Linked DNA regions of Homo sapiens: region 1 is linked to region 2. The links come from fine-mapping of genetic effects on plasma protein levels. A gene starts in region 2. The other region holds a variant in brackets. All regions are shown on one strand. Distances are between the middles of the regions.

The links. A credible set is the group of variants that fine-mapping cannot tell apart. PIP is the posterior inclusion probability: the model's chance that the variant is causal. Protein levels are from antibody-based Olink assays in UK Biobank. Linkage for the fine-mapping came from a reference panel and not from the study's own genotypes, which makes the PIPs less certain.
Region 1: its variant is the best candidate, but not a certain one, in a credible set for the plasma level of the LRP11 protein (UK Biobank, PIP 0.65).

What each region holds. Positions count from the first base shown.
Region 1 is chr6:149,819,767-149,835,429 of GRCh38, forward strand. LRP11 (LDL receptor related protein 11) reads right to left here. Exons shown (of 7, transcript NM_032832.6): 6 at 6,498-6,593; 7 at 1-937. The coding sequence ends at 783. It overlaps RAET1E-LRP11 (RAET1E-LRP11 readthrough), which reads right to left. Exons shown (of 15, transcript NR_182438.1): 14 at 6,498-6,593; 15 at 1-937. Among named protein-coding and RNA genes, the nearest start is that of RAET1E-AS1, 36 kb to the right of the region's middle. The variant C/T (reference allele first, on the strand shown) is at 7,997.
Region 2 is chr6:149,856,288-149,871,950 of GRCh38, forward strand. It overlaps LRP11 (LDL receptor related protein 11), which reads right to left and starts at 8,072. Exons shown (of 7, transcript NM_032832.6): 1 at 7,121-8,072. The coding sequence starts at 7,733. It overlaps RAET1E-LRP11 (RAET1E-LRP11 readthrough), which reads right to left. Exons shown (of 15, transcript NR_182438.1): 6 at 12,575-13,598; 7 at 12,416-12,493; 8 at 8,929-9,057; 9 at 8,598-8,710. It overlaps RAET1E-AS1 (RAET1E antisense RNA 1), which reads left to right and starts at 7,211. Exons shown (of 2, transcript NR_045126.1): 1 at 7,211-8,095. RefSeq lists silencers at 7,077-7,226, 7,397-7,506, 7,647-7,706, 7,777-8,226 and an enhancer at 7,883-8,383.

The DNA of each region.
Region 1 (15,663 bases), 37 kb before region 2:
AACGTTCTCCTTGCTCTCTTTGCCTTCAACTAAGTTTCTGTTAGTTTTTGGCATGCCAGATTCTCTGCTTCCATCTTGATTTCCTATCTCACTGCATGACCATCTTAGAGCTGTTACTAATTCAAAGTCTGGGGTTTTTTTCTCCCAAAGGTCAGTCTAAGGAGGCAGCCACCTATATGACATGACGTCAGAGGGATTAGGAAGGACCCACACTCACCTTCCCTAAGGCTTACTGACTTGTACATAAGGTTTATAATTTAGGTATACCCACCCTAAGTAACATCTGATTGAAGGCATGAACTTGCTTGAGATCCACTCTCAGAAACAGGTTTAGAGGGGAAAAGAAAAAGAATACTGGGAGCTTCAAGGAGGAAGAAAAGGGCCACAGAACAAGGGGAAGCTGGGCCTATAGCAGTCCAGCATGGTAAGGGGCCAACAGTTGGCTTCTAAAAGGTAATGGGTTAACACAGTCATCCTAATACCACCTCCTGAGATGCTGAATTTTCTCTCAGCTAAGTACACATTTCTATTTTCAGGGACAGCTTACATAAATCAGAATTATATTTTTAGGAATCTTTAATCATGAATTCCTCTCTAAATTTCAAAATATTTTATGACTTCTAAGGAAACTTTTTTTACAATAAATAATAAAGAAAGATTTGGGATTTGCAGAATCTTCTGGCCCAATTAAAAACAAAAGAAGCTGTAAATATCCAGAACTTAATAGATGTATAAATTATAAACAAAACATGTCCCTGCCCCAAGGTATTGAAATTACATTACTATAGATACATCCCATTTATGAGGTAGTCCGATTCCTCAGATGTAATGGGACGAGCTTTTTTCAGTTTCTGTTTCACCAGTCGTAGTCGGCATGCAACCATGAGAAGCAGCAGAGCAGTGATAGCCAAACCCAGCGCCAGGGGTAGCACTGCACCTTTGAGAAGGTTAGACATGAAGAGGGCAAGCCAGTGATTAGTCACAGTGACAGCTACTGGTCACTATATGATACGCGCTTTGCATGCACTATTTTATTTAATCCAAACAAATTGTTATTAGTATTATCACTATTTTGCAGATTAACTAAGGTGTACCAAGGTTAAGTAATTTGCTTATTTGCCTAGGAGGCTGTAAGTTGTAGGTTCAGGTCCCAAACCTAGACTTTTTTTTTTTTTTTTTTTTGAGATGGAGTCTTGCTCTGTTGCCCAGGCTGGAGTGTAATGGCTCAATCTCGGCTCACTGCAACCTCTACCTCCTGGGTTCAAGCGATTCCCCTGCCTCAGCCTCCCGAGTAGCTGGGATTACAGGTGCCTGCCACTGTGCCCAGCTAAATTTTGTATTTTTAGTAGAGATGGGGTTTCAACATCTTGGCCAGGCTGGTCTCAAACTTCTGACCTCGTGATCCACCTGCCTCGGCCTCCCAAAGTGCTGGGATTACAGGCGTGAGCCACCGTGCCCGGCCAACACAGACCTCTTTAAAACCAAATTCTCTACCAGCTTCCTACAAAATTTGTATGGCATCAATGGGTACACATACTACCATCTGATCACTCATATCCAACTGAAATAGGCATTCTGATCACGAAATTTTTTTGTTGTAGTCATTGACTATATTTATGAATTCATACATGATCATTCTTCAACTAAGTATGAACTAACTCCTGATTTCTTGTTCTAGTTAGGGCTTAAGAAATTTATTTCCTTCTAAATCCAGGGAACTGACTCAGTCAGTAGAACCTTTGTTGAAAACTAACTTCCAAATATGCTGGTGTGATTTTGGACATTAAAGGAAAACATTTCTTTAGTTTTTCCTGTGAGGTGGATTCTAGACACCAGAGTAGAAGTAGCGAGGCTTGCAGGAGTCTGGAAGGACAGGGTGTGCCAATATCAGTCTTTTTTATCAAGCTTAGCAGGCTCTATTTTTAGTCTGATCTACTCTGTGGCCAGGCCAGGTCTGGAGATTATATGGTGGAACTGTTTTTAGCTGTAGGGATCTTGCCAACTGGTAGAACTAGAGGAGAAACATCTCCTTTGTGTAGGCTCATTCTATACCATTTGCTCTCATTTATTCATTCATTCTGCATTCATTAAAAGCCTTCTTCCATGTGCCAGACACTGAGCTAAGTGCTGATAATCCTTTTATTTGTAAATAAATACCACCCCCCTCAAGATAAGCTAAGGCCAAGAATACCAGCTTTATAGCTTAAATCACTGAATTCTCACAACCACCACATAAGTTGGTGCTATTATTATCCCCATTTTACAAATGAGGGAGCTAAGGCATCAACAATGAAGTGAGGGCCAGGCACGGTGGCTCAGGCCTGTGATACCAGCACTTTGGAAGGCAGAGGTGGGCAAATTGCTTGATCCCAGGAGTTCGAGACCAGCCTGGGCAACATGGCGAGACCTTGTCTCTACAAAAAATTATTAGCCAGTTGTGGCATGCACCTGCAGTCCCAGCTACTCGGGAGGCTGAAGTAGGAGAATCACCTGAGCCCAGAAAGTTGAGGCTGTTATGAGCCATGATCAGGCTACTGCACTCCAGCCTGGGTGACAGTGTAAGGGCCTATCTCAAAAAAAAAAAAGAGAAGTGAGGCTGGGCACAGTGGCTCATGCCTATAATCCCAATACTTAGGGAGGCTAAAGCAGAAGGATCACTTGAGTCTGGGAGGTAGAGGCTTCAGTGAGCTCTTAAACTGTACTCCAGCTTGGGTGGCAAAGTAAGATCCTGTCTTAAAAAAAAAAAAAAAAAAGACTGAAGTGACTTGTCTAAGATTGTTAAGTGGTAGAGCTAGCAAATAACCCCAGACAGGACAGCCCCAGAGCCTGTGGTTCTATCCACTATGGTACTCTACTTCTACAAAATGTAAATGAGACAGTTTTTGAACGAGTAAGTCTGGGTAGACAGACATTTAAATGGGAAAAAATGCAACAAAGTGTTATACTTACTATGATAGAATTATAGATGAAGCATAGTTGTATTAATAAAATAGGTGGTCCATCTACCTGGTCTGTAGGATTTTTGCCTGAGTGATTTTGATGTATGATAGAGACTGTTGGGTGGCTGAAGGAGGTAAGTTTATTTTTTGACATTTTCAGATTGAGATGCCTATCAGCGATCAGGTGGAATTTTCTCTTAGGCTTTTGGATTAGCTGGGCCTAAATATGTGGGAGCCTTTAGCATAAAGGTGGTAGCTGCAGTCACAATAGGGGTTAGGACAGCCAGAGAGAAAGGAAGAAGAAAGGTGAGCCAGGAACGAGGTCCTGGGAAACACCAGCATTTAGAGGGCAGACAAAAGCAGAGGACCAAAAAAAAACAGAAGAAGACCAGTCAGAGAAATAGGAGGACAACCGCTATAGTAGGGAGTGGGCTTTTGGAAGCTGAGGAAAGAGACGTCCAAGAAGAAAGTCCTCAGCTGAATCAAATGCTAAGGAAATGTCAAGTGAGGTGAAGCCTGGAGAGCCCCCTGGATTTAGCAATTGGTAATTCATTTATGGGAGTACAGAAGATGGAGGATGCTACTTTGTTTCTTTACACATTAAGAAATCTGAACATGATCACAGTCAGGAGAATGAGCCAGTAAAGAAACAGAGATGAAAAACACGGGAGAGCTAGGAGATGATGAGAAATGAACCTGAGGAAATCAGGGGCTTTAGCCAGATCAGGGAGAGACCTTGGAAAGAGGCGACACCTCTTCCTTTAGTACTGGAGGGGAGGAAGAGGGGTGAATGCAACCAGATGAGTTTTTACATTTGGGGGGCAGGTAGCTGAGGAAGTTCACTCCAGACAGTCTTGATTTACTGGGCTTAAAACTGGTCCCAGGTATAGCTGGCCGCCTCTTGAAGACAAGAGGACCTGGAGCTGATGACACACTCACGGCACTTGAACTCTGGTGTATTTTTAGAATCCCAGGTAAAACTCCTGAACAAGATTCTCAAGAACAGTTTGAAAGTGTCTGGTTGCCGGAGGAGGGGATGGGAAAGCTGCTTTAGAGACTGTTAGGTATCAAACAAAGTTCTGGAAGAGGCCAGCATTCCTCCAGAGAATTGTGAAAGATACAAATCGGTGATAACCCTATGGACTGGAATTGGATTCTACGGCTGTCTCATTCCATACACAGCAGTTCTGGAGGTGTCAAGATGGCTGCCTGGTCTCTCCATGCCAGCAGTTTGGGGCTTCAGTAGCTACTACTGCCTCCTAGTCTCCACCTGATGAAAGAAGTTCTGACAAGGCTAAGTGGCCCCAAGGTGTCATTCTCCCTCCACCTTCCTATAAGTTGCATATGTTACAAAGGAACAGGACAAAAAAAGAGACTTTGGTCAATACCCACAGAAAACCCCAGGAACCCCAAATCATTTCTCATGAATTGGACCGCAACACCCAGCCCCAGTCCGGGGGACTTGCTTAAAGATGAGCATCAGCATTTAGGCTAAAGGGTTATGAAGCTGTGGTTGAAGATGCCAATCCCAATGCCGGGGCTCAGGTTTAGCTATGGTAACAATAAAACAGACGAGATCTGGGAAAATGTTCTATTTGCTAAGTCAGATATGAGGCTGCTGAACTGTCTGATCTGATTCCTGTTTAATGCTTTTATGACAAGGAAAATGAAATCTCCCAAAAGTACTTGCCAGAATATTGAAAATTATTCTTGACTTTTAATATTTAGTTGGCTTAGTTTGGATAATTTGAGATTTACAACTTTCTAGCTCCTTCTAAAACACACCATGATGCTATTCTCAGTAACCAGCTAGGGTGATGAATTATGTATTCTGTTCATATGAATGGGGGTGACATTTAAAATATGTAACAGGCTGGGCACAGTGGTTCACACCTGTAATCCCAGCATGGTGGGAGGCTGAGGCAGGAGGATCACTTGAGGTCAGAAGTTTTGAGACCAGCCTGGCCAACATGGCAAAACCCCATCTCTGCTAAAAATACAAAAATTAGCCAGGTGTGGTGGCATGCACCTGTAATCCCAGCTACTAGGGAGGCTGAGGCAGGGGAATCGTTTGAACCCGGGAAGCAGAGGCTGCAGTGAGCTGAGATCGCGCCGCTGTACTCCAACCTGGACAACAGAGTGAGACTCGATGTCTCAAAAACAAAACAAAACAAAAATATGTAACAACCAGAATAGGCAACAGCCAACTAGAGCTGAGACTCTCTGGATACATATGTGTGGGGAGGCAAGAGGCAGGCTGGTTTCCCTCTTCCCTTGATAGGGGACAGGGCCCCTTTTATTCAAATATCTTGGGACAGGCTAAGTCCAGGAGGCCAGCAGACCAAGGGGGTCACCCAGGTACTTGACATCTGGAGTATTCTTAGCTATCTATTGTTTAAACATTATATTTTAATATTGTCCTGATATTATAAATAGGGTAAAAAGAAAGTTTTCTCAATGTTTATAACTTAAGCTTATATTTTGTTCTTCTAAAGCTTCTTTTACTAGTTTGTGGGATTTAAGACTAAAGCCTGCCTTTCTAAAGGATGGTTTCCAAAGTCTTTTCTTCCTAGTTAAAATCAACCAAAATTAAAGAAATTATTGTATTCTTCTTCCACTTAGTAAATATTCTACTTCCTACACCCTTCCCTCATTTCTGTTGTTTTCTGTCTTTGTCACTAGGGCACTTGGAAAGAGAACTAGGTATTCTAAGACCTTTACTCTTCTTTCATCGTAAATAACTGAGTAATAACTGCCATCGTTTCTATATTTGGCTCATCATATGAGCCACACAGTGCATTCAATGCTTGAGATTAATTATCCCATATATTCTTCTCAGCAACCCTATGAGGCAGGTATTGTTACTATCCTCATCTTACGAATGAGGAAACTGAGATCCAGAGAGATAAGATAGCCTGCTCAAGGTCATACAGTTTAGTGGGTAAGTGAGAATTTTTTTTTTTTTTTTTTGAGACGGTCTCACTCTGTCACCCAGGCTGGAGTGCAGTGGCACAATCTTATCTCACTGCAGCCTCGACCTCCCAGGCTCAAGTGATCCTCCCACCTCAGCCTCCCTGGGACTACAGGCGAATGTCACCACACTTGGCTAATTTTTGTATTTTTTGTAGAGACAGGATTTTGCCATATTGCCCAGGCCGGTCTTGAACTCCTGAGCTCAAGCGATCCTCCTGCCTTGGCCTCCCAAAGTGCTGGGATTACAGGCGTGAGCCACTGTGCCCAGCTTTGAGCAAGGATTTGAATTGTGGCATCTGACTCTAAAGCTTGTGTTCTCCCACCATGCCACAAGTATGACATTTTCCACAGGTGTCACACCTGGAAGGGTGTATAGAAAAGGCAGCTGAGGTCCAAAGATGGAAGGTTACTATCAGGAGCCCCAAGACGCAGTGCAATACAAGCAACGAGGAGACAGTTCTTTCGGTCCACTGACGGACTCCTCCTGTCCTGAGCTCTCATGGCCTCAGGGAATATCCTCAGCCAGAGGGCATGCAGTTCTGAGAAGACTACAGTCTGCAAAGGGTTTCCAAGGTGGACATTTACCTGTTTCTGGGGCTGGGTGTTCCCCTCCTCCTCCATCACCCTTTGACTCAAATATATAACTTTCCTCTTTTCTGTTCTTCCCTGAGGAACTACTATCTGCAGAAAAGAAAGAGAACATATATTGAAGGTGTATGCATCAGAAACTTCAGGAAACAAATGTGAAAATACAGCCTTATTTTTTTTTAAGATGGACTTAGAGAAGAACTGTTTATTTCTCTACTAAACAAAGGCCTATGTTTGATAGTTAAGCAGTAAATAACTAAGGTGACCCACTGAATAAAGCAAAGTACGCAGCTAATACGAAACCACCGACAGAGAGAGCGGAAGACACACCCTGCACCGAACTACCACCACGCCTCTTGGAGAAGGGAGATCTCAGGCTAGAAGAGTCACAGGGAGTCTCCGGATATCACGCCATGAAAAGCAGAAACCAGAAAGGTTTTTCTTTGAAGAATAAACAATGGGCATATATAAGGCATTTAGACATGCTCTTTCTCTTTCTCACAACTCTGGATGGCAGGTATAAATAGCTCAATTTTCTTTCTGGTTAGGCTCAGGGTCAGGTTCGTACCTAGGTTCACACAAGTAAGTGGGTCACAGGGCTGGGATGCAAACTGGTTTCTTGGTAGAGACCAGTACTTCTAATTTAATGATATATTACTTAACTATTAAGTTATAATACTGAGGGGGAAATTATTATTATTTATTTACTTTTTTTTTTTTTTGAGACAGAGTCTCTGTTGCCCAGATTGGAGTGCAGTGGCACGATCTTGGCTCACTGCAACGTCCACCTCCTGGGTTCAAGCAATTCTCCTGCCTCAGCCTCCCGAGTAGCTGGGATTACAGGTGCGTGCCACCATGCCTCGCTAATTTTTGTATTTTTAGTAGAGACGGGGTTTTGCCATGTTCCCCAGATGGGCTCAAGTGATCCGCTCACCTCAGCCTCCCAAAGTGCTGGGATGACAGGCGTGAGCCACCATGCCCAGCCTTAAGTGGGATTTTTGAGTATTACAATGCTTAATGGCAATGAATTAGAAATAATCTACTGACAAATTTTATTGAGAAAATTTTTAAAGCTTCTTTACTCATATGGCATCAACATAAATGTTCCTAATTCCTGCAAATGAAATAAGACTATTTAAAGGTAGTATATAAAATTCTTTGGTAACTTGCATTTTGCAAATTTACTAAGTCACAAAGTTGGCCAGGTGCACTGGCTCATGCCTATAATCCTGGCACTTTGGGGACAGTCTACTGTGTCTTGTTACTCTAGAAAGTTCCATGTATGTTGGTCCTACATACAGCCAATAATTTGGGCTTTCTCCATAAACTCTGAGCTCAGACAGAAGGAGAGAGATGAGGAAAGCACAGCCATTGCTCATAGGCTGCAGGATCAGATTTCCCTGCAAAAAGAGTTCTGTTACTGTCCAACTCACTGCAGTAGCCACGACAGTGGTCACCAAGGACCTCTCCAGCTACCTGGATTCTCTTATATGATA[C/T]CTGATCCCAGGCCAGGTAGTTCTATAAGATTGTATTACATAAGGGCCGCACGCAGTGGCTCATGCCTGGCCAACATGGCAAAACCCTGTCTCTACTTAAAATACAAAAAAAATTAGCCAGGCATGGTGGGCGCCTGTAGTCCCAGCTGCTGGGGAGGCTGAGGCAGGAGAATGGCGTGAACCCTGGAGGCGGAGCTTGCAGTGAGCCGAGATCGCGCCACTGCACTCCAGCCTGGGCGACTGAGCAAGACTCCGTCTCAAAAAAAAAAAAAAAAAAAATTAGCCAGGCATGGTGGTGGGCGCCTGTAATCCCAGCTACTTGGGAAACTGAGGCAGGAGAATCACTTGAACTTGGGAGGCGGAGGGTGCAGTGAGCCAAGATCATGCCACCGCACTCCAACCTGGGCAACAGAGACTCCTTTTCAAAAGAAAAAAAAAAAAGATTTTATTATATATGATTCTGGCCTAGGAAGCTATACTAGAAGTACTGTAAACATCTGCTGACATAGGAAAGCACTATTTAATACAGAAAAATAAGACCATGCAGCTTTTTTATTTTATTATATTTTTACTGCTAGTAGACAGACCAGAGTGCAATTTTTGTGGCAAGTAATTTTTACACTTTTTCTCAGGGGTGAGGTAGTTAATAGGTACATATTTAACCACTGCTTTTATGGTGCAAATCTCATGGTGTTGATATCCATATTGAAAATATGAGTATGTTTTATTTTCTTTTTTTTTTTTGAGACAGGGTCTCCCTTTGTTGCCCAGGCTAGAGTGCAGTGGTGCAATCTCAGCTCACTGCAGCCTCGACTTCCCAGGCTCAAGTGATCCTCCCACCTCAGCCTCCCAACTAACTGGGACTACAGGTAAGCATCACCACACCTGACTAATTTTTCTATTTTTTTGTAGAGATGGGGTTTTGCCATGTTTCCCAGGCTGGTCTTGAACTCCTGAGCTCAAGCAAGCCTCCCGCCTTGACCTCCCAAAGTGCTGGAATTGCAGGTGTGAGCCACAGCACCTGACCTAAAAATATGAATATTTTCAATAGCATTTTGAAGGTTCAATGTAAGCCTTGTTTAGATTACTACAGAGACTCCAGTGAATGTTCCTGAGCTTTTGCTTGGTAGAGATATAGAAAACATTACTGTGTTTTAAAGTCAATAATGCCTGATTTTTTCAAATGCCAGTTGCTCGTGGATCTCCAAAAGAAACACAAGATTTGTTCTGTAGAGATATAAATCAGTGATATGCAAAACAGTCCATCCAGCAGCCGCACACACAAAACTAGCAGCCCTGAAACAGCTTGGAAATCAAACTGCTAAGTTACCTAAAAACCACTTGTGGCACTTCTCCCTTCATCCCTTTCCTCCTCCCCCATGCCGTACTGCCAGGTTAGCTTGCAAAGGAACTTCTATGCATTCTGCTTTATCTCTCTCTCCAATAATAAATTTGGAAGTGGGAAGATCACATGGTGGGAAACTCAAGTCCTACTTTTTAAAAATAATAAGCCAGGGCCTGGGCATGGTGGCTCACGCCTGTAATCCCAGCACTTTAGGAGGCCAAGGCAGGTGGATCACTTGAGGTCAGGAGTTCGAGACCAGCCTAGCCAACATGGTGAAACCCCATCTCTACTAAAAATACAAAAATTAGCTGGGAATGACGGCACACGCTTGTGATCTCAGCTACTTGGGAGGCTGAGGCAGGTGAATCGCTTGAATTTGGGAGGTGGAGGTTGCAGTGACCCCAGACAGCGCCACTGCATTCCAGCCTGGGTAAGAGAACGAGACTCCATCTAAAAAAATAAATAAAATAAAATAAAATAAAAATAAAAATAAAATTAAAAATGAGCCAGGAATAAAAACAAAGTGCCAAAATTCACCAACTCCCGATTTTTTTCAGAGGACTAACTGGTTTGTCTTTCACCCAATAAAAAAAATAAGATAACTGCATTTACAGTGTTCACCTCACTGTTTCTTCCCAATGAAGATGAGAGCTTGCTCATCTTAATTCTTAAAGGAACTCAGTACTGGAAACACTACTGCACTATTTCTATTTTTTATTTGAATTAACTGCCTTATACACTTGGCGCTCTCTTACCCTGGTTTCCTAGCGAATACCACTGGACTTGAATGTTCTAGCAAAAATTCAAACAGCACTAACATTTACTGAGAGACATCAATTATATTTACATATAATATCTCCTGCAATCTTTGTAGCCATATTATGAGAGATTATTATCCTCTTTTTTTTTTTTTTTTTTTTGAGACAGAATTTCACTCTTGTTGCCCAGGCTGGAGTGCACTGGCGCAATCTCGGCTCACTGCAACCTCCACCTCCTGGGTTCAAGCGATTCTCCTGCCTCAGCCTCCCGAGAAGCTGGGATTGTAGGCATGCACCACCACGCCTGGCTAATTTTTGTATTATTAGTAGAGATGGGGTTTCTCCGTGTTGGCCAGGCTGGTCTCGAACTCCCTACCTCAGGTGATCCACCCGCCGTGGCCTCCCAAAGTGCTGGAATTACAGGCATGAGCCACCGTGCCCAGCTGAGATTATTATCCTCTTACAGGTAAGGAAATGAAGTTTAGAGAAGTTGATTACTTAGTAGCTAGTAATTGGTGGTGCTGGAATTAGAACCCAGGACTGATCCAAAGCAGTTTTCCATTGAACCATACTGCTCTCAAGGTCACAACTAGCAAATACGAGTTTTTTACTCCAAGAACCAAGTCAATACTATATTTATTTACTCATACCCAGGCAAAATCACACACTTTTAAATGATTTTTAGGAAGGTTCTGGACAAAGCTTTATTAAGGATGCAGTAGAGAAATTGGCTAACTGTACTTGCAAAAGGGACCTAACCTCACAGGTGGGTTCATGTAAAAAACTATGCAAATTCTTTCTGAATCTTCAGTTGTCAAAATTAAAGAGCACTTTCTTTCTTTAAGAAAAATTTTTTTAAACAGCATTTTCTTAAATGCCCTTATTCCCTGGGGAGAGGAAGATGGTGATGTAGGGAGGGATCAGGTATCAGGCAGCGGGCAGTGTGCATGGGAGACTTCAGAAGGCGCAGTTGCCCCAGACTCTAGGATTACCCAGGAACCTGGCCCTGCCTTCTGGGTAACTGAAATGTGAATTTCTGCTGTTTACATTCCATGAAGGAATTCCCTATGATTTCCCAGTCTGCCTGATTCATTTTTCCTAGATTTCAGCATAAGGAACGCCATAGAGAAATGCTTCACTTTCACACATCCAATCACAGGCTCTAGCCAGTGTGGCGAATCGAAACAAAACAAAACAATGACATCACTTGCTTCTGGAAATAGTTACTTTTGGTAATGATCCTTCTGGAAGAGTTACATGTCTTAGGAGACCATTTTTCCTTTCTTCTGAATGTATTATGTTTACTATGCATGGCGACACATTCACAGAGGGAATTGGCAGCTGGATGGAAGCTGTTTTCATTTCATTTCCAGCTGCCATAGAGCATGCAGGCATGATCCGGAAGAAATACTTTAACATGCCCAGGAATTCTCAAGTTTCAAAAAGCAGATTCCACGTGAATGTGGATGTAGCACCACTTTTCTAGCCCTTTGTAGGGCTGGAAACCAGATTTCTTTCCTCGGGGTAGCTTGGATACAAGAGGGTGGAATTGTTAATGAATGACATGGACCACACAGAGAACAGGCCCTACGGCTATGACCATGGTCAACAATCCAGCCATTGTGCCTTTACATGCTGAGCAAACACAGGCCACACTGGAGCTCTGTGCTCCTCCTGCCCGGTGGCTCAGAGTGTACTGAGCATGCATTCGCTGGTGTAACTGAATGTCTGCACATACCTTCATTTTATCCTCAGTAACCTGTGTGGAATAAATCCCCAAAAGTGGGACAATTGGGTCAAAGCACACATAGTTTTGTTTTAGAGATGAGGTCTTACTCTGTCACCCAGGCTGGAGTACAGTGGTGGGATTACAGCTCACTGCAGCCTCGACCTCCCAAGCTCAAGCAATTCTCCCACCTCAGCCTTTCAAGTAGCTGGGATTACAGGTGAATACCACAAGCTGATTTCTGTAGTTTTTGTAGAGATGGGGTTTTGCCATGTTGCTAGGGCTGGTCTAGAACTCCTGGCCTTAAGCAATCCACCTGCCTTGGCCTTCCAAAGTGCTGGGATTACAGGTGTGAGCTGCTGCACCCGATCATATACATAGTTTTAAGCCTTCAGAAACTGGCCTCTGGAAGGACGTACTAATTGCATTGCTACCAGCAGAGTGTGAGACTTGTTTCTCTCTACTCTTAGAAACATTAATTATTATAATTCTTCATCATTGTCAATGTGATAGGTGAAAAACTACATCTCACTACTTTGCATGCTACACTGTTAGTATTAATCTTAGTATCTTGTTAACAAGTCTTCCATGAGCTAAGTCTTTTTTTTTTTTTTTTTTGAGACTGAGTCTCACTCTGTCACCTGGGCTGGAGTGCAGTGGCGCAATCTTGGCTCACTGCAACCTCCGCCTCCTGGGTTCAAGTGATTCTCCTGCCTCAGCCTCCTGAGTAGCTGGGATTACAGGTGCCTGACACTACGCCCAGCTAATTTTTTGTATTTTTAGTAGAGATGGGGTTTCACCATGTTGGCCAGGCTGGTCTTGAACTGACCTCGTGATTTGCCTGCCTCGGCCTCCCAAAGTGCTGGGATTACAAGCATGAGCCACCGCGCCCAGCCGAGCTAAGTCTTATTTGTCCTCACCACATGTCTGTGCAGGAAGGAGGCAGCAGTGAATTTAACTCATTCATATTTATTGTACTAGCTGATGGTCTTCTTAAAACCCAGGCATGTGTCATGAACAACAATGTACTTTTTTTTTTTTTTTTTTGAGATGGAGTCTCGCTCTGTTGCTCAGGCTGGAGTGCAGTGGCGCAATCTCAGCTCACTGAAAGCTCTGCCTCCTGGGTTCACACCATTCTCCTGCCTCAGCCTCCTAAGTAGCTGGGACTACAGGTGCCCGCCACCATGCCCGGCTAATTTTTTGTATTTTTATTTTTATTTTTTTATTTTATTTTTGAGACGGAGTCTTGCTCTGTCGCCCAGGCTGGAGTGCAGTGGTGCGATCTTGGCTCACTGCAAGCTCCACCTCCCGGGTTCACGCCATTCTCCTGCCTCAGCCTCCCGAGTAGCTGGGACCACAGGTGCCCGCCACCACGTCCAGCTAATTTTTTGTAGTTTTAGTAGAGACAGCGTTTCACCATGTTAGCCAGGATGGTCTCGATCTCCTGACCTTGTGATCCGCCTGCCTCGGCCTCCCAAAGTGCTGGGATTACAAGCGTAAGCCACCGTTCCTGGCCTTTGTATTTTTAGTAGAGATGGGGTTTCACCGTGTTAGCCAGGATGATCTCGATCTCCTGACCTCATGATCCGCCCACCTCGGCCTCCCAAAGTGCTGAGATTACAGGCGTGAGCCACCGTGCCCGGCCAATAATGCACTTTTAAATCTACTTATGGGTCTTTAACTTACATGAAATCAGAGGCTGAGGACTCTACTCTGGTGGTCTTAGGGACAGCAGAGGGGGAGGGCAGGGACAGCTACTGTCTGAACAGAAACTACAGGATGTGAGGGCTCTTTCTAACATTTTCAGTTTTGTTTTTTTCTTCCCACTTTCTTCACCCCAGGACTTTCAAAAAGTGTGTTTTTGATGAATAGTTAATAATACATGAAAATGCTCATGAGTAAGAAAAAAGTTTTATAAAAGCATTATCCTGCTTTTGTTAAAAATGAATAAATATGTATATGTGTATGAATAGAAGTAACCAGAAGAAAATGCGACAAAATTTTAATGGTGAGTTTTGCTAGATGCTTTTAACTTTCTTTGTATTTTTCTATATTTTCTACAGTAAATCCATATTATTTTAATAATTAGAAAAAGCCCTAATATAATAACTGTACATCTAATCTCTCTGCATCTGTGAAAGACCACTCTTTACATCTTCATAACCAAATCCAAAGGCTGATTATCAAAAAGCAAAAGGAGAGATCATAAATAGATTGGAAATTGGGTGCTGACTCCCATCAGCCGCAGGTGGCAGCCTGGAGCATTATTTTCTTTTTTTTCCCTCCAACTTCTAAGTTCCGGGGTACATGTGTAGGATGTGCAGGTTTGTCACACAGGTAAACGTGTCATGGTGGTTTGCTGCACAGATCATCCCATCCCTAGGTATTAAGCCCAGCATCCATTAGCTGTTCTGCCTGATGCTCCCCCTCCCCCTACCTCCCACCCTCTGACAGGCCCCAGTGTGTGTTGTTTCCCTCCATATGTTCATGTGTTCTCATCATTCGGCTTCCATTTCTAACGTGAGGACATGCAGTATTTGGTTTTCTGTTCCTGCGTTAGTTTGCTGAGAATAATGGCTTCTAGCCTGGAGCACTATTTTCAAAAGGATTCTGAGCTAAGTCCACATTCCCCATGGGACAGTGCTGGGACCAATGAGTGACACCTAGCATGGGTAAGGGCTGATGGGGTAAAGTATGAATGTCAGCCTATTTATCATTCCTCAGTGCTGGACAGCACCTTGGAGGACATCTGGTTGAAGTCCCTTATTAACAGATGAGGCAACTGAGGTCCAGAGATATGAAGTGACTTATTCAAGGTTCTAAAGGTAGAGCCAAGACCTGGGCTTTGGTCTCGACTCTACTTTCAGCTAATTTGTTCATGCTCACGTGGTTCTCTCCACCACAGTAATGTGGTAGGAATTCATCCATCCTGGCCTCTGATAACACAGATCTCTCCATAAACTCTTCACCCCTTCGGCAGTCCTGCCAAAGATGCCTGGTCTGCCCAACTCTGTTTCTTAGATTGTGATGCTCTTCTCCATACAAACTATCTTAAGCAGAGAAAACCCACTAAAACCACATCCAAAGGCTTGCATGTAGTGACCGATTTTACCAGTAGGTGGCAGTACCAACCAGGAATGGACCAAAAAAGCAGACACTTGGCAGCATTCTTAACCAAAACTCAGAAAGAAAAGCCCCTGATAGAATGCAATGTTTTGCAGACATATTTTTATGGAGGCACTTAAAATCTACAAGGCACATAAACAAGAGTGGAAGGAAATATAACAAATATTAAAAGCAGTTTTCAAAAGAGGTGGTATTTTAAATTCACTTTCCTTCTTAAATTATTTTGCATCTTCCGTATCTTGTACAATGAACAAAAATTTTTCTTAATAAACTTACTAAAATCATGTCAGGTTATTTCAATACAACTTATGCAGAGTCTGAAAAGACATTAGAAAAGCTTTTGGAAATGTGATAATCTCTATTTCTGTCTCATGTCACATAATCATGCAAATAATAAGTGTGTAAAAAATGATGGAATCCTGTAATACTTATTGATTGACTGATTGAGACAAGGTCTCACTATGTTGCCCAGGCTGGTCTCAAACTCTTGGCCTCAAGCAATTCTTCTGCCTCAGCCTCCAGAGTAGCTGGGATTATAGGTGAGTCACTGCATCTGGCTAAATTCTGTAATGCTTTAGTCATGTTAATGTATTTTAGGCCAGGTGCAGTGACTCACACCTATAATCCTAGCACTTTGGGAGGCCAGCCGAGGTGGGCAGATTGCTTGAGCCCAAGAGTTCAAGACCAGCCTGGGCAACATGGCAAAACCTTG
Region 2 (15,663 bases):
GATCATTTTAGTCACTTACTTTTATTTAGGTGAGCTTTAAGATGAATTATAAGCTTAGTGAAATCATCCTATCTTCTAAACTGATCACTGATGTGTCTGAAATAACACAGATAATGTTTCCTTTTCAGTTCAAGTCCAGGCCATTTCCATTGTAAAATGTATTTTAAAATAACCCAGAGCTTATCTACCCAGAAACAGTCCTTAAAATAAACAAATAACAACACGAAGAGGAAGGGAGTGTGCCATTTTAAAATGTGTGACTTGCTAATGAAGAACAAAATATATGTAATTTTGAATTTTTGTCAAAAAAATGTAATAAACCCATGTTAAGTACTAGGGAAACACTGGTTTCTTTTGAAAACTAAACACACTTAGTAAGACCTACAGAGGTGAAATAAGACTCCTGCCGATTGAGAATGAGCAAATCAAGGTGGCATTTTATTCAGAGAAGTGTAATATAATATCAACCAGCCTCATTCACAACACGCTACTGTGCACAGAGCCTCCATGACAAGGAAGACATTCTGTGCTGTGTGGGAACGAATGGTATAGCTCAGGCAGAGCAACTGGAAAGAACCCTGAAGTCAGGGTACGGAAGCGGGGCGAGACTAGGGGAAGAGGCTCAGATACATGCGGTCAAAATCCATCATGGATTTCCAACTGCAACACTTCGGAAAAAAAATTATCCGCAACCCCAATATGATTATTGTGATTTTTGGTATGTACTGATCCAGTCCTTCTCCCTATGGTGCTGCTGATAATAATTATAATAGTTGCCATTTACTGAGGGATTTTGAAGCTGACTTTGCAAAAATTATAGCTGAGAAAATTATAACAGTGAAATAGATCTGACCTGACTCCATGTGGCTTCTAATCTCCAAGCTGTCCTTGTCCATTCCTGGGCATAGGCCGAACTAATTTTGGGAGGAACTTGGTTTACAGTCTGACTTTGAAACAGACGCGGCCGGGTGTGGTGATTCATGCTTGTAATCCCAGCACTTTGGGAGGCTGAGGTGGGCAGACTGCTTGAGCCCAGGAGTTCCAGACCAGCCTGGAACTGGTGAAACCCCATCTCTACTAAAAATACAGAAAGTAGCCTGATGTGTGGCACATGCCTATAGTCCCAGTTACTTGGGGGGCTGAGGAATTCAAAGCTACGGTGAGCCAAGACTGTGCCACTTCACTCCTGCCTGCATAACAAAGTGAGTCCCTGTGTCAAAAAAAAAAAAAAAAGTAAAAAGAAACAAAGATGGTAACAGCCCTTTCCCCAAATAAGCCCCTTTCTTGCCTGAGGACTGGACTGCCTTTGCAAAACTAACAAATAAGCCACAAGATTAGAAATTATGGCTTAGGCATCACTATTATAAAACCTAAGTTCAGTGCTTGAGATATTTTATAGACCCTGTCCTCGATGGTTGGCAGCACCCCGTTGGCAGTACCTAGGTTGATAAACTGGCTCATCTGGTCTTGTGTTTTATCCGCACAACCAGTTCCTTGTGAATTAAACTCTTTCTCTATTGCAATTCCCCTGTCTTGATAAATCAGCTCTGTGTAGGCAGTGGGCAAGGAGAACCCATTGGGCGGTTACAATTTCCTTGTACCAGGTACCAGGCCAGGTGAAGTTATAGAAAGAACTTAACTTTCACAACGAATCTCTGAGGTAGGTATTATCATCTGCATAATACTGATGCAGAAACTAGGCTCAGAGGGCTAAGTTACATCACACAGGCGATAAATTTGTCAGATCAGATACTTCTTTTTAATTATTTTTTTATTATTATACTTAAAAGTTCTAAGGTACATGTGCACAACGTGCAGGTTTGTTACATAGGTATACATGTGCCATGTTGGTTTGCTGCCCCCTTCAACTCGTCATTTACATTAGGTATTTGTCCTAATGCTATCCCTTCCCTTGACCCCCACCCCGACAGGCCCTGGTGTGTGATGTTCTCCTCCGTGTCCGTGTGTTCTCATTGTTCAACTCCCACTTATGAGTGAGAATATGCGGTGTTTGGTTTTCTGTCCTTGTGATAGTTTGCTGAGAATGGTTTCCAGCTTCACCCATGTCCCTGCAAAGGACATGAACTCATCCTTTTTTTATGGCTGCACAGTAGTCCATGGAGTATATGTGCCACATTTTCTTAATCCAGTCTATTATTAATGGACATCTGGGTTGGTTCCAAGTCTTTGCTATTGTGAATAGTGCCACAATAAACATACATGTGCATGTGTCTTTATAGTAGCATGATTTATAATCCTTTGAATATATACCCAGGAATGCAGCCCAGTTATTTCTAACTCAAAGGTTCTATCCTTCCACTATACTTCGAGACAACCCTAGGTGTATTCCAGTTACAATAAATATAATTTTACATCCTGAATTTAATCCATCAACTTATTGGTATATTCCTGTTATTGATATTTCTTCATATATCTTAGCACTGCCCATGTGATAACCTAAGCTTCACAATTGCCACTTGAGTTTCCTAATCTGTACTACTGGACATTTACTTTGTTACTTTTTCACCATTATAAATAATGCCATAATAAACATGTTTTGCTCATACGTTCTCTTCAGCATAGATGATTTTCCTAAAAAATATTCCAGAAGTATGAATATTTTAATGGTTTCTGCCACATATTTTCCAATTACTTTCCAAGAGGGAAGTACCAATTTACACCATCAGTGAGCTAGAAGTGTATATAAAGTTTCCCATATGCATGTCAATATGAGTAAAACACTTTTTTGCTCATATGTTCTCTTCAGCATGGTTCCTTTTCCTAAAAAATATTCCAGAAGTATGAAATGAATATTTTAATGGTCTCTGCCACATATTTCCCAACTGGTTTCCAAGAGGGAAGTAGCAATTTACACCATCGGTGAGCACAGAAGTGTATATGAAGTCTCCCATATGCATGCCAATATGAGTAAACCTATTTTTACCAAGTTAATAAATGAAAATTGGCCTTATTTACATTTCTTTGATTCTAAGGTCGAACATTTTTCCATGTTTATCCACCATACCTCCTCTTCTGGGAAGTGTCTGCTCATGTCCTTTGCCCATTTATTTTTATTTTTCTTGCTGACTCATATATATATATATATATATTTTTTTTTTTTTTTTTTTGACCGAGTCTTGCTCTGTCGCCCAGGCTGGAGTCCAGTGTTGCAATCTCAGCTTACTGTAACCTCCGACTCCAGGGTTTAAGCTATTCTCATGTCTCAGCCTCCCCAGTAGCTAGGACTACAGGCGTGTGTCAACAAACCAGGCTAATTTTTCTATTTTTAGTACAGATGGAGTTTCACCATGTTTGTCAGGCTGGTTTCTAACTCCTGGCCTCCAGCAATCCACCTGCGTTGGCCTCCCAAAGCGCTGGGATTACAGGTGTGAGCCACTGTGCCTGGCCCATAAACTCTACGAATAAATAATGTCACATTTTTCCCAGACTCTTGTTTGCAATTCCTTTTGTTTCTTGATATGAAGTTTTTTATAAATGTGCATATAATCTATCCCCTTTCTTTGTGACCTCTTTAATTGATTTGAAACCTGTCTTCCTTCCAGATATGGAAGTTTACTTCCTTTAAGTTTTTTTATGTATGGAGTAATCTATGGCTTAATTTAAAAAAAATTTAATTCTTTAATCCATCTGGAATTTGTGTATGGTCAGAGTTGTAGGTCTAAATGTACTTTCCCTGACACTGCCAACCAGTTATCTTACTATTATTTATTAAATATAATTGTTTATAACACAAAAGGGAGAAGATAAGAATGTGAGAAAGTAAGGCCCTTGGAGAGGGAGAGTGGTCAAGCATCTGCAGAGGGATTAACCTTGAATGGGAAGGTCAACTCTTTTGTTTGCACTTGGCGGAGACAGGGAAAGGCTGGGGGTGGCAGCAGGTGGGTCTGCAGAGAGGAGAGCAGACCTCTGCCTAATAGCTTTGATTTTCCCTGACACACAAGGCAAGGGGCCCACTTCCCAAATTCTTCCCCGAGATACTGGACTTCAGGCTGAATATCCAGCAAAAACCACATAAAGGTTATCGTCCTTGAGTCCTTGGAGGTTATATTCCCTGCTCTTCTGGAATCCTAGCAGCTCTAGCTTCTACCTCTCCTCCCTCCCTCCCTCCCTCCTGCTGTTCTTCACTTTTTATCATGACATCCAGTCCCCCAACCCTCTAGTCATGGGCATGACCCAACCAGGTTCCTAGAACAGTATCATGTACATGCGTGCCACCTTCCTAACTCACAAAGCATGTCCCCCCTTGAACCTCACGACAGCCTGGGATGGAGGACAAGCAGACACCAAGTCCTGGGGGCATGAGCAGGGACTTGTTTGTGGAGACGCCAGGCCCCAGAACTTCAAGCACCCTCCTCTGTTCTACAGATTCTAGCAGGCAGGCTCAGTCACTACAAGACACCTCTCTCCAGCATCTCTCACTCATTCCTGCATCCTCCCGCCTTCCCTACCTCTACCCTCGCAGTCCCAGCCTAGTGATCCCTTTCTCAGCTTCTGCTGGTGCTGCTGGAGAAAGCATAGGAGTTCAGGCTCCACAACCCCATGCTGTGTGACCCTTGGGCAGGTTACTTTCGCTTGCCAAGCCTTGTATACACTAGGGATTATAACAGAACCTAGGCCTTTGTGTTGTTGTGAGGACAGAGTGAGTTCATGCGTGCAAAGGGCTGAGGACAGCACCTAACACCAAAGTCAACAAATGTGGGCATGAAAACAGGGCTGGTGTGTCCTGCTGTAAGTTCGTGCTATCCCATCACCATTTCTTCATGGTGCTTTCATCCACCTCAGATGGATCCAGTCACAGCTCCTCTCCAAGGGCTCTTCTAAACCATTTTCACATGCTCACAACCCAAAAACGAACAATTCAAGAAGGAAAAACTTAGTCTCTGAAGCATAAACAACTTCAACCTGTCAAGCATCTGAGCAGGGGACACACAGGACACTGGGGAACAATTTTTGACCTCCACGCAGAGAGAACAAATGAGCCTCTACAGGAACCTGAGCCGCACCTTCCGCGTTTCCATGTTGCTGGGACCTCAGGAAGTCTGAGCACAGCAGTGTTCTCCCAGAAATGAGGACCAGCACCGCGCTCGCCTATTTTCATCCCAAACATCTACAAAACAATTCCTAGACAAACTCCCCTGGGGAAAGGAAGGGCAACGAAGCAAGCAAGAGGAAAAACAACCCAGAAACTTCTCATAGTAACCTGAAGTTTTTGTTTCTGTTTCTGAGGCAGTGTCTCCCTCTGTTGCCCAGGCTGGAGTGCAGTGGCGCAATCTGTACTCACTGCGACCTCCACCACCACAGTTCAAGCGATTCTCCTGCCTCAGCCGCCCGAGGAGCTGGGATCATAGACAGGCGCCACCATGCCAGGATAATTTTTGTGTTTATTTCTTTTTAGCAAAGACGGGTTTTGTCATGTTGGCCAGGCTGGTCTCTAACTCTTGGCCTCAAGTGATTCACCCGCCTTGGCCTCCCAAAGTCCTGGGGTTAGTTATGAGCCACCGTGCCTGGCGTCTCCAAGTAATCTAAACTTTAAAATTTTTGTTCTATGGCATATTCTTTCCTTGTTTATTTTCCTTTTCAAAGGTTTCCTCTGGGTTTATAGGAAAGCTCACTTTGGCAATGTCAGTTTCTTCCAGGTAAGTAGTGAGAACACAGAGAAAAGACTTTGTTTCTTTGCTGCTGGGATATTTTGGTCTGTGTTTGGGCAGAGAGGATGTGTGTGCAACAGCCGTGGTGGGCCTCAGAGATGCTGATGGGGGGTCCAAGTGAAAGTGCTGCCTGCCTCCACTTCAGAAGGAAAGCTATGGAGTCCTTCCCAGTGTTTGCCTCAAGGCCAAGCAGTCGCAGGGTGACCCTTTGATATCTGCTCCCCTGACAAGGATTCTGAGCCTCATCTAAGGTAGAGGTGGGGAGGGAGGCAGGATGTGATGGACACAGATTTCCAGACTCTTTCAATGGATCCACAGGTTTTGGAGAATCCACACTTCCAAAGGGGCTGAGCTCCGCCCCCATCTTGCTGATATCATTCGTGCTATTATAAATCAAACAGCAACAGGGCATGATTAAACACACGGAGCCTGACCACACGTGGGCACAATCAAGGTCTCTTATTCCCTCCGTGACATTCATGTCCAACCACTACCATTTTTGTGCCTCCTGTATGTGTCCTGATTCTCTCATTCAGAGCATCTACAAAAAGTCAAACCGTCGAATCAGCATCATTTTTAGTCCTTAAGAAACACGCTTTAAAGTTTCCTATTTTCTTTTCCTTTTTTTTTTTTTTTTTTTAAGATGGAGTTTCGCTCTTGTTGCCCAGGCTGGAGTGCAATGGCGCGATCTCGGCTCACTGCAACCTCCGCCTCCTAGGTTCAAGCGATTCTCCTGCCTCAGCCTCCCGAATAGCTGGGATTACAGGCGCATGCCACCAGCTCTGGCTAATTTTTGTATTTTTAGTAGAGATGGGGTTTCATCACATTGGTCAGGCAGGTCTCAAACTCCTGACCTCAGGTGATCCGCCCTCCTCGGCCTCCCAAAGTGCTGGGATTACAGGCATAAGCCACCACGCCCGGCCTTAAAGTTTCTTATTTTCAACGAAAATCAAGTCCCCTCTTTTCACTTTTTATAAAAGGGACCAGAAGTTTTCCTCCCATTTTTGTATGATGAAAGCCACCGCAGGCAAAGTCAGGAGAGCCACGTCAAGAAAAAGGAGTGGGTGTTACGAGAAGCCCGGCATCTAATTAGATTTTGCTCTTGCAATTACTTAACACAAACCATGCCTTATACAACCCATGAGACTAAAACAAACTTTTTTCTCTCAGCATTTCTCCCCTTTTAAGTCATATTTCCACGAATCCTCTCAGATCAGCCTTTCTCTTCAAGCCTAGAAAAATTCCAGTAGCACGTCACCGCGCCCGCCCGCCCGCTTCTGCCAAACTACTGGGCTTCCTCTTCCCTAAGACAGAGAAACCCATGCCAGAAACTCTTCTGGGTGCCCGCGGCTAAAATAACTTGGCACGAGTGTGTTTCGCTTCCAACTTGGCGAGGGCGCTGCGGGTCTCGAGCGCTCTGGCCAAGGCCGGCCCCTCAGTCGCGCGCTTACCCTGCCGGGGCGAGGCGCGCGCGGTGGCCAGGGCGGCGCCGTCCGGCGCGCGGCTGAGGCTGTAGCTGCTGTAGCCGCTGTGCAGCGCGAACTTGCAGACGTTGCGGCCGCGCGCCGTGCAGTTGAAGAGGTAGCAGCCGAGCACGGCTGCCGGGGGCGCGGGGCGCCGGGGCAGCTCCACCACGGCCACGGAGCAGCGCGGCTCGGAGCAGCAGGCCGCCACGCATTGCCGCCAGCCCCGCACGGCCGCCGGCGCCCGCAGGAAGCTGGCACCCGCCGCCAGGGAGTCCTTGGTGCGGATGATGGCGTCAGGCATTGCGCTGTAGCCGCCGCTGCCCGGGCCCGGGCAGTCCTCCTGGGGGCCGCCGCCCGCGCGCAGCTCCAGCTCCAGCTCCTCCTGAGGCCGCTCCTGCTGCAGTTGCCGGCGGAACTCCTCCAGCAGCTGCTCCACGCCCGACAGCTGCGCGTGCAGTTCGGACAGCGGCGCCGCGGGCGGCAAGGCCGCACGGCCGCTTGGCAGCCACAGGCAGAGCAGTAGCAGCCCGCGCAGCGCCCCGTGACGCGGCGGTAGCCGGCGCTGCGAGCCCGCGCTCTCCTGGGCGACGGAGGCCATGGCGACGAGAGCCAAGGGCAGCGAGCCGAGGCGGGGCTGAGCGCGGGAGGAAGGCGGGGACGCGGGCGAGCGCGGGCCCTGGGCCCCTCCTGCGCGGCCGCGGCTGGCTCTAGGCCCCGGCCTCACAGCGCGGCGCCCCCGAACCCGGCTGCTCCCCCGAGGTCGCGGGCGCCGGCGGGAACCGCAGTAGCGGGAGACATAGCCGGCCCAGCCGGGCACCGCTCCTTGCCCTCGCCGGAGACTGCCCAGCGCCCTGCGCCTCTCCGCCCCGGCCTGCGGCGCGCTGGGTGGCGACGAGTCGGCCTCGGCGTTGATCAGCACCAGGTGTGTGCGAACAGTGGCCGCGGCGGGGTGGAGCCTTGGTGAGCCCCGCCCCCCCGCGCGGCCCCGCCCCCGCGCGTCTCGCGCCGGCTCCTCCAGGGCTGGGAGAGCAGGCCCCGGGGAGGGCAGCCTCAGAACAACTTTGCTCCCGCGCCGCTGCCCAGCTAGGGCAGGGTTCATGTCTGGGCCCAGCAGGCTTTAGCAACCAACCACACCTGCCCAGGGCGCCTGCCCACAGGGGCTTGGCATTCGGGGGAATGGGGGCAGTGGGAAGGGAGGGCCTGTCTTCAAATCCTCGTGACCCCCGGGACTACTCCAGAGAGGGGGCACGCGCACCTAGGACCACCGTAGCGCGTCATCAGTCCTTCACCTCCAGCGTCCCTGACTTTCCGCATCATGTTCCCAAGATGTGCTTGGGTAGTACAAAGTGGGGCGGGGTTGGGGTGGCGGAGTCAGGGCCGGGAGGGGTGGGGATGGGAAGTACTGAAAGATGTTCAGTCTGTTTAAAAACACAAAAATCAAGCCTGGTGAGGTGGTACTCGCCTGTAAGTCCTGAGGCTGAGTTGGGAGGATGGCTTGGACCCAGGAGTTCGAGACTGCAATGAGCTGTGATCACACCACTGTACTCCAGCCTGGGGGACAGAACAAGACCCTGTCTTTAAAAATAAAAACAAAACCCATAAATAGCAGTCGTCACATGCACTCAGATTTCCACAAATATAACAAAAAATCTGAACACAGCCAACATGGGGACCTGGGAGTAATACAGCCTGTGACAGAGAGGCCTCTAGCGGTTATATCACGTAAAATCTCGGGAGTTGTGCTTTAAATGACATAAGGAATAAGAAAATGTCCAACCCAGTGGGGGCTTCACCTTGGCGTTCTAGACTTCTGTGAGCAGCATCTGCATCTTGTTTGTTTCTGAATCAGTTTCTGTTGATTCATTTTTCTCCTGATTGTGGATCGCATTTTCTTGCTTTTTAGCCTGTCCGGAAATTTTTGCCTGGATGCGCACATTGTAAATAGAACACTGTTAAGTGTCTGTATTTTTTAGGATTGAAAGAATAAATAATTGGTGGGAAAATATCAGTCTCTGCTATGTGTTTATTATCTCCAGAGTTGACATTTAGGAACCCATTGCTTGCAGATCCAGATCAGAGTAGGAGGTAAAATTAAAAGGTAGCAATAGAAAAGAAAGAAAAAAGCTCAATGTTACTTGCCATTCCATCAAAGGGAGAAATTATAAAGTTTTTGCAGGGGTATATTTGAGTGATTTTTGAGGCTAAAAGAAATGGCCTCTTAGCTCTAAAGGCTGTGTCTGGACTGTACCACTTCGGCCTGGAGATTCTTCCTCATATGGCATACTCATCCCACACAACTGCAGTCATTGTAAGATGACCTTGAAGCAACATAATGCTTTTTATTTTTTATTTTTATTTTTTGCCATAGACCTTGGAGAGCTTGAGCAGGATTGTTATGAGGAGAAACTTTCACTAGTGATGAAAATGCTGACTGAGGGTATCATCAAACCCTCCAAGGACTAGTTGTTATATAAGTTATTAATATTAAAAATAACATGATAATATATAATATTAACTAAGAATTGTACATGATTTCAAAGTTTGCCAAACACTTTCACATACATGATTTTATGTGCCTTCACAGAGACTTTGACCACCTCACTCCTGCCTTTGGGACCGTGAAAGAGAAGTCAGTATAGAGTGAGCCCTAGCTCACATGTTCCGTGGTAGGGAAGTGGACAGGGGAGAGGACAGCATTTCTCAGGGGCATTCATTTCTAAATCCCTCCAGCACCATCAAAGATTTTCCTGCATCTGCAACTTTACAATAGGTCTTTTTGGGAGAAGTGGAAATTATTTAATGTTGTGTTTACCGTGAGCAGTGGTTATTTCTGGGCTGTGAGTTGCAAGTACTGAAGGGGAAATACTGACTTTTATAATTTATAAGACTTTGTTGAATTTTTTTTTTGCAATGAGCTTGTTGTAAATGATTTTCTATTTTTTAAAAATAAGTGTTGACATCTGCTTCAGCCAGGAGGGAGCAACAAGGACTGGACTTACTCTGTGACCTGAAATGAAAAATCTGTGAAAAAAATGTATGGAACAATGGTTTTCAGACATTGGGCAACAGGCAATGCAGGGCCCAAGAGAAGGGAGACAAAGGAAGTGAACATGCTGCTTGCTCCAGCTTACTGCCTGGAGAGGGTTTCCAAGCCGCAATGCAGACAGGCGAACCAAAAGAGACTCTGAGTTGGAAAATAGAGCTGAGAATTCAGGGAGGCCAGGGTGGCTAGAGTACCAGAGAGGAGAGAGTGCAACGGAAGGAGGGAGCTCTGGAGATCTGTGCAGGGTTCCTCTGAGTCTTCAGCAGAAGTTCGACCAGGTACATGCATGTGAGGAAACTTCCCAAGACAGAGAGGCAACCACTAGAAAAAAGCTGGCAGAAAAACTTCTGAGCTTGCATTGGCCAGGCAATAGTTCGTTCCCAACAGCCAGAGTGGAGAAACCTTGTGACAAGAGGCATGAGTTTGAGTAGGAAGGGAAGGGATTACAGAGAAGCACATGAAAACTTTTGCAGGTGATAGGTGTGTTCATTACCTTGATTGTGGTGATGGTTTCACTGGTGAATACATTGATCAAAGTTCATCAAATTGTGTATTTTAAGTGGGTATAGTCAATTATATGTTAATAAGGCTATTTTTTAAAAACGAAGTTTCATTGCACTGTGCATTGTGATTTATCTTCTTTTTCTAGTTCTCTTTTCAGTTTTTTTCAGAAATAAACTATCTTTGTTTTAAAAGCCTAAACATCAAAACCTTATCAATGGATAGAAGAATTTTTATGTGAGGATGAAAATGTCAGGAAGATGTGTTTCTGTTTTATAAGATAGATCATTAAGAGTAAGAGTGGATCAAATTGAGATTGGACTTCGTAGGTCAGTTTGTTGAATGTTGGAATGAGATAACCTGTGTCTTAGCTGGGCTGCTGTAACAGAATACCACAGACTGGGAGGCTTCTAAACAACAGAAATTTATTCCTCACAATTCTAGTGGCTGAGAAGTTCAAGATCATGGTGCTGGCAGACGCTGATATCTGGTGAGGGCCCACTTCCTGGTTCATAGACAGCAGTCTTCTCACTGAGTCCTCACCTTGTGGGAGGAGTTAGGGAGCTCTCTGGGATTTTTTTCTTTTCTTTTCTTTTCTTTTTTGAGACAAAGTCTCGCTCTGTTGCCCAGGCTGGAGTTCAGAGGCACAATCTCTGCTTACTGCAACCTCTGCCTCCTGGGTTCAAACGATTCTTCTGCCTCAGCCTCCTGAGTGGCTGGGATTACAGGCGCACACCACCACGCCTGGCTAATTTTTGTATTTTTAGTAGAGACTGGGTTTCACCATGTTGGTCAGGCTGGTCTCGAACTCATGACCTTATGATCTGGCTGCCTCAGCCTCCCAAAGTGCTATGATTTCAGGCATGAGGCACCGTGCCTGGCCTGGGATCTTTTTTATAAGAACACTAATCCCATTCATGAGGGCTCCACCTTCATGCCCTAATCATCTTCCAAATTCTCCACTGCAAACATCATCACATTAGGTTTCAACATAGGAATTTTGGGGGGTTACAAACATCCAATCTACAGCAACACCCTAGTGACATCGTTTTTTGTTGCCCTCCCCTCCCCTCTACTGCCCATCTAAGTACTTTTACAGGCATCGAATAAGTTAAGTCAGTGCATGTGAAGTGCTTAGAAGGGCATCTGACACATTATAGAAGTTCAATAAATGCTAGTTGTTGTTGTTATTACAACAGAAATGAAGGACCTTTCCTAAGATTAGAAGTCATGAAACCACTTGAAGCCTGAATCTCCTCTACAACATCCCAGCTGAGTGGCTGTTGCACTAAGATTCTTCCTTCTCCATACCCCTTTCATGGAATCTGCTCTGCTCACGTCCCTGGAAGGGGCAGCCCCAACCCCCAGGTGGCCACACCCCCTGTTCACTAGGGATGGAATCAATAATGAATGCCTGGCCCAAGCACAGCCAATCAGATACTCTCTCCAAGGAATGTAAAAACAGAATTGAGAAACAAACTGACTCAGCAAATCAACTCAACAAACTGACTCAACAAATTGAGTCAGGGAGGGAAGTGTAGCTGGGAAGCCAGGTGAGCTCCAGGGGACATGGAAGGGGATGATAGCAGAGAGAAGCTGTTCAGCAGAGGGGGACAAATGGAACCGTGAAAAGAGGAAATAGAGAACAGTGCATACATAGCCTTGAGAGAGGGAGGGAGTGAAGACAGGAGTTGCCTGACACTTTCTGGTCTCAAATCTCTCCCCTGAGCACCTACTTGGCCTTCTACCTGGAATTCCTCTCATGGAGTTCTTGCCTTGCAGCTCAGTGATCTAGGTTCATCCTAGTTAAATCTCTGTGGATTGCAAACAACAGAAACTCATTTTAGATTGGTTTAAAGAAAAAATAGCTACCGTGTTTACACACATGCACTCACAGGCAGGGAGGAAATGCAGCCAGGCCTTGGGAGGGCCTGGACCAGACATGGCAGAACCCTCAGCAGTCAAGCAGCTGGTCTCCCAGTTGCTGCTTCTCTCTTCTGGGACCAAGTAGTCTGAGATCTCCACTTCTCTCTGCACATCTGATTCATGCTTCTCTCAGAGTCTGGAGTTTTCTGCCCTCCATGCACAGAGCCTGAGTCTATCTCACCTCACCTGCAGCAATGAACAGAAACTCAGAACAGTGACCATCAGTACCAAGAGAGAGACTCTGATGAGTCTAGCTTGGTCCTGTGTCCACCCTAAACTGAGGTTAGTGTGCAGAGACCATGAGGCACAAACAGGGCTACAAACATGGCCTTCCCTCTCCTCATTGAGGATGGAAAGAGAGGCCGTTCTTAGAGGAAGGACGTGGTAGTAACTGGGGAAAATCCTGAGAAGTTGTCTTCTGCGTTGACTCAGGCAATGCCCCATGTCTGCTTGAACATGTTCATTAATTTTCATTTTAAATTTAAGAAACGCTTATAAAAAGTACTGTGCTACGACTACCAGGAACCGTTCTGAGTTCTGCACAGTCACTTATTTACTTAAAACAACAATTACGCAGCATGTGCTAGTATTACCCCCAATTCACAGGTAGGGAATGCAATATTTTGTTACTGAAACACCAGGGGTTCAGTTTAGGTCCTGTTGCTTGCAGCACAGAAAGCCAATCACTGGATCAAGTATTTTTGGGGGAAGAAGGCTTTCTTTGGTGCTGCCAAATAAAGATAAGTGGAGATAAGTCTCAGATCTTCGACCAACTTAAATTGGGGTGTATATAGTGGGGAAGGAGTGTAGCTACCCACAGGAAAACAGGAATTAAGGAGGGGTAAGGAAGAACAATTGGTCAACGGGAAGCAGATGGTTGGTTAGGAAAACAGGAATTATGGAGGAGTAAGGAGAGGAGTCTGGTGTCTCGTTATCTGGATGTGGTGATGTGAGTTTTACTTCCTCGATATTATCTGGAAGTCGGAGGGTTTCCTGAAAAAGGAATTCAGATAAGACAAATGTAAGTTTTAAGCATTAAGAAAAGCAGGGTCCATTTCTAGCTTTAATAGGAAAAAAATGGCAAACATCAGTTCTCGGGGGAAATTGAGCTAGTTTCACCTTCACACACCAAAGCTCCTTCCATCTTTGGGCAACTCTTACTATTCATTAGAATGTTTTCCTTATATTCAGTTACAATCTGTTTTGTAGCTTCCAAGTATTTGTCCCAGTTCCTTCTCTTGGGACCACTCAGAGCAACCTACACCTACTCCCAAGTGATAGTCCTTTAAATAATTTTAAAATGCCATTGAAGCTCAGGCAACTCAGCTTGCTTAGTACAGCACAGTGTTGAGTGTGGCTTATGACAGCAGTGTCAAACACCTGCTGGCTGTGTGACTTTGGGCAAGTCACCTACCCTCTTCAAGCACCAGATCACCCCGCCGTAATATAGGAATAATTGCCTCACCTTGCTTCCCACAAGTGTGGTGAGGATTAAGTGAAACACAGCACATAAAGCACTTAGCACAATGGCTAGTGCGCTAAAGGCTCCTAAGTGTTAGCTGGGATCATCCCCTCTCAGTTCATCGATTCATCACATCGTGAGGCTTGCAGATCTCCATTCTGTCATCTAACCTGTTTTCTATCCCACCTGGCTTTGTTATTGTTGCGTTTTTCAGCATTACTGAGGTATAACTGACAAATAAAAATTGTAGGCTGGAGCAGTGGCTCACGCCGGTAATTCTAGCACTTTGGGAGGCTGAGGCGGGCAAATCACGAGGTCAGGAGTTCAAGACCAGCCTGGCCAACATAGTGAAACCCGCATCTCTACTAAAAATACAAAAAAAAAAAAAAATAGCTGAGCATAATGGCTGGCACCTGTAATCCCAGCTACTCGGGAGGCTGAGGCAGGAGAATCGCTTGAACCTGGGAGGCCCAGGTTGCAGTGAGCTGAGATGGTGCCACTGTACCCCAGCTGGGCAACAGAGTGAGACTCCACCTCAAAAAAAAAATTGTATGTATTTGACAAATATGACATGACCATTTTACGTACATATATATTGTGTATGATTACCACAATCACATTAATGAACATATCCATCACCACACACAGTTACCATTGTGTGTGTTGTGTGTGTGGTGAGGGTACTTAAGGTCTACTCTTTTAGCAAATTTCAAGTAAACAATACAGTATTATTAACTATAGTCACCATGCTGTACATTAGATCCAACTTAACATCTTATAACTGAAAGTTTGACCAACTTTAAAGTTTGACCCTTTGAGCAACATCTCCCCCAGCCCCTGACAATGACCGTTCTATTCTCTGCTTAAGTTTGACTTTTTAGATTCCAAATGAAGAAAAATCATATAATATTTTATGTTGATGTCTAGCTTACTTAAGTAGCATAATGTCCTAATGTTCTCCAGATTCACCCATATTGTCACAAATGGCAGGATTTCCTCCTTTTTATGGCTGTATAATACTCCATTGCATATCTATCTGTATCTACATCTATCTGTGTATCTATATCACATTTTCTTAATTGGCCTGTCAGTGAACACTTAGGTTGTTTCCATATCTTGGCTATTGTGAACAGTGCTGCAATAAACATGGGGGTACAGATATCTCTTGGAGATACTGCTTTCAGTTCGTTTGGATACATACCTAGAAGTGGGATTGCTGGGTCATATGTTAGCTCTGTTTCTAATAGAACTTTTTTTTGTACTGTTTTCCATAATGGCTATACCAATTTACATTCCCACTGACAGTGTGCAAGGGTTCTCTTTTCTCCACACACTCACCAACACTTGTTATTTCTTGTGTTTTTTTTTAAATGATAACACCACTTTAACAGATGCAAGGTGATATCTCATTGTGATTTTGATTTGCATTTCTCCGATTATTAATAATGTGGAGCACCGTTTTATGTATTTGTCACCCACTTGTAGGTTTTCTTTGAATAAAATGTCTATTCGTGTCCTTTGCCAGTTTTTGAAAAGCAGGTTTTGTTTTTGTTTTTGCTATTGAGTTATATGAGTTCTTTCTGTGTTAAAGACGAA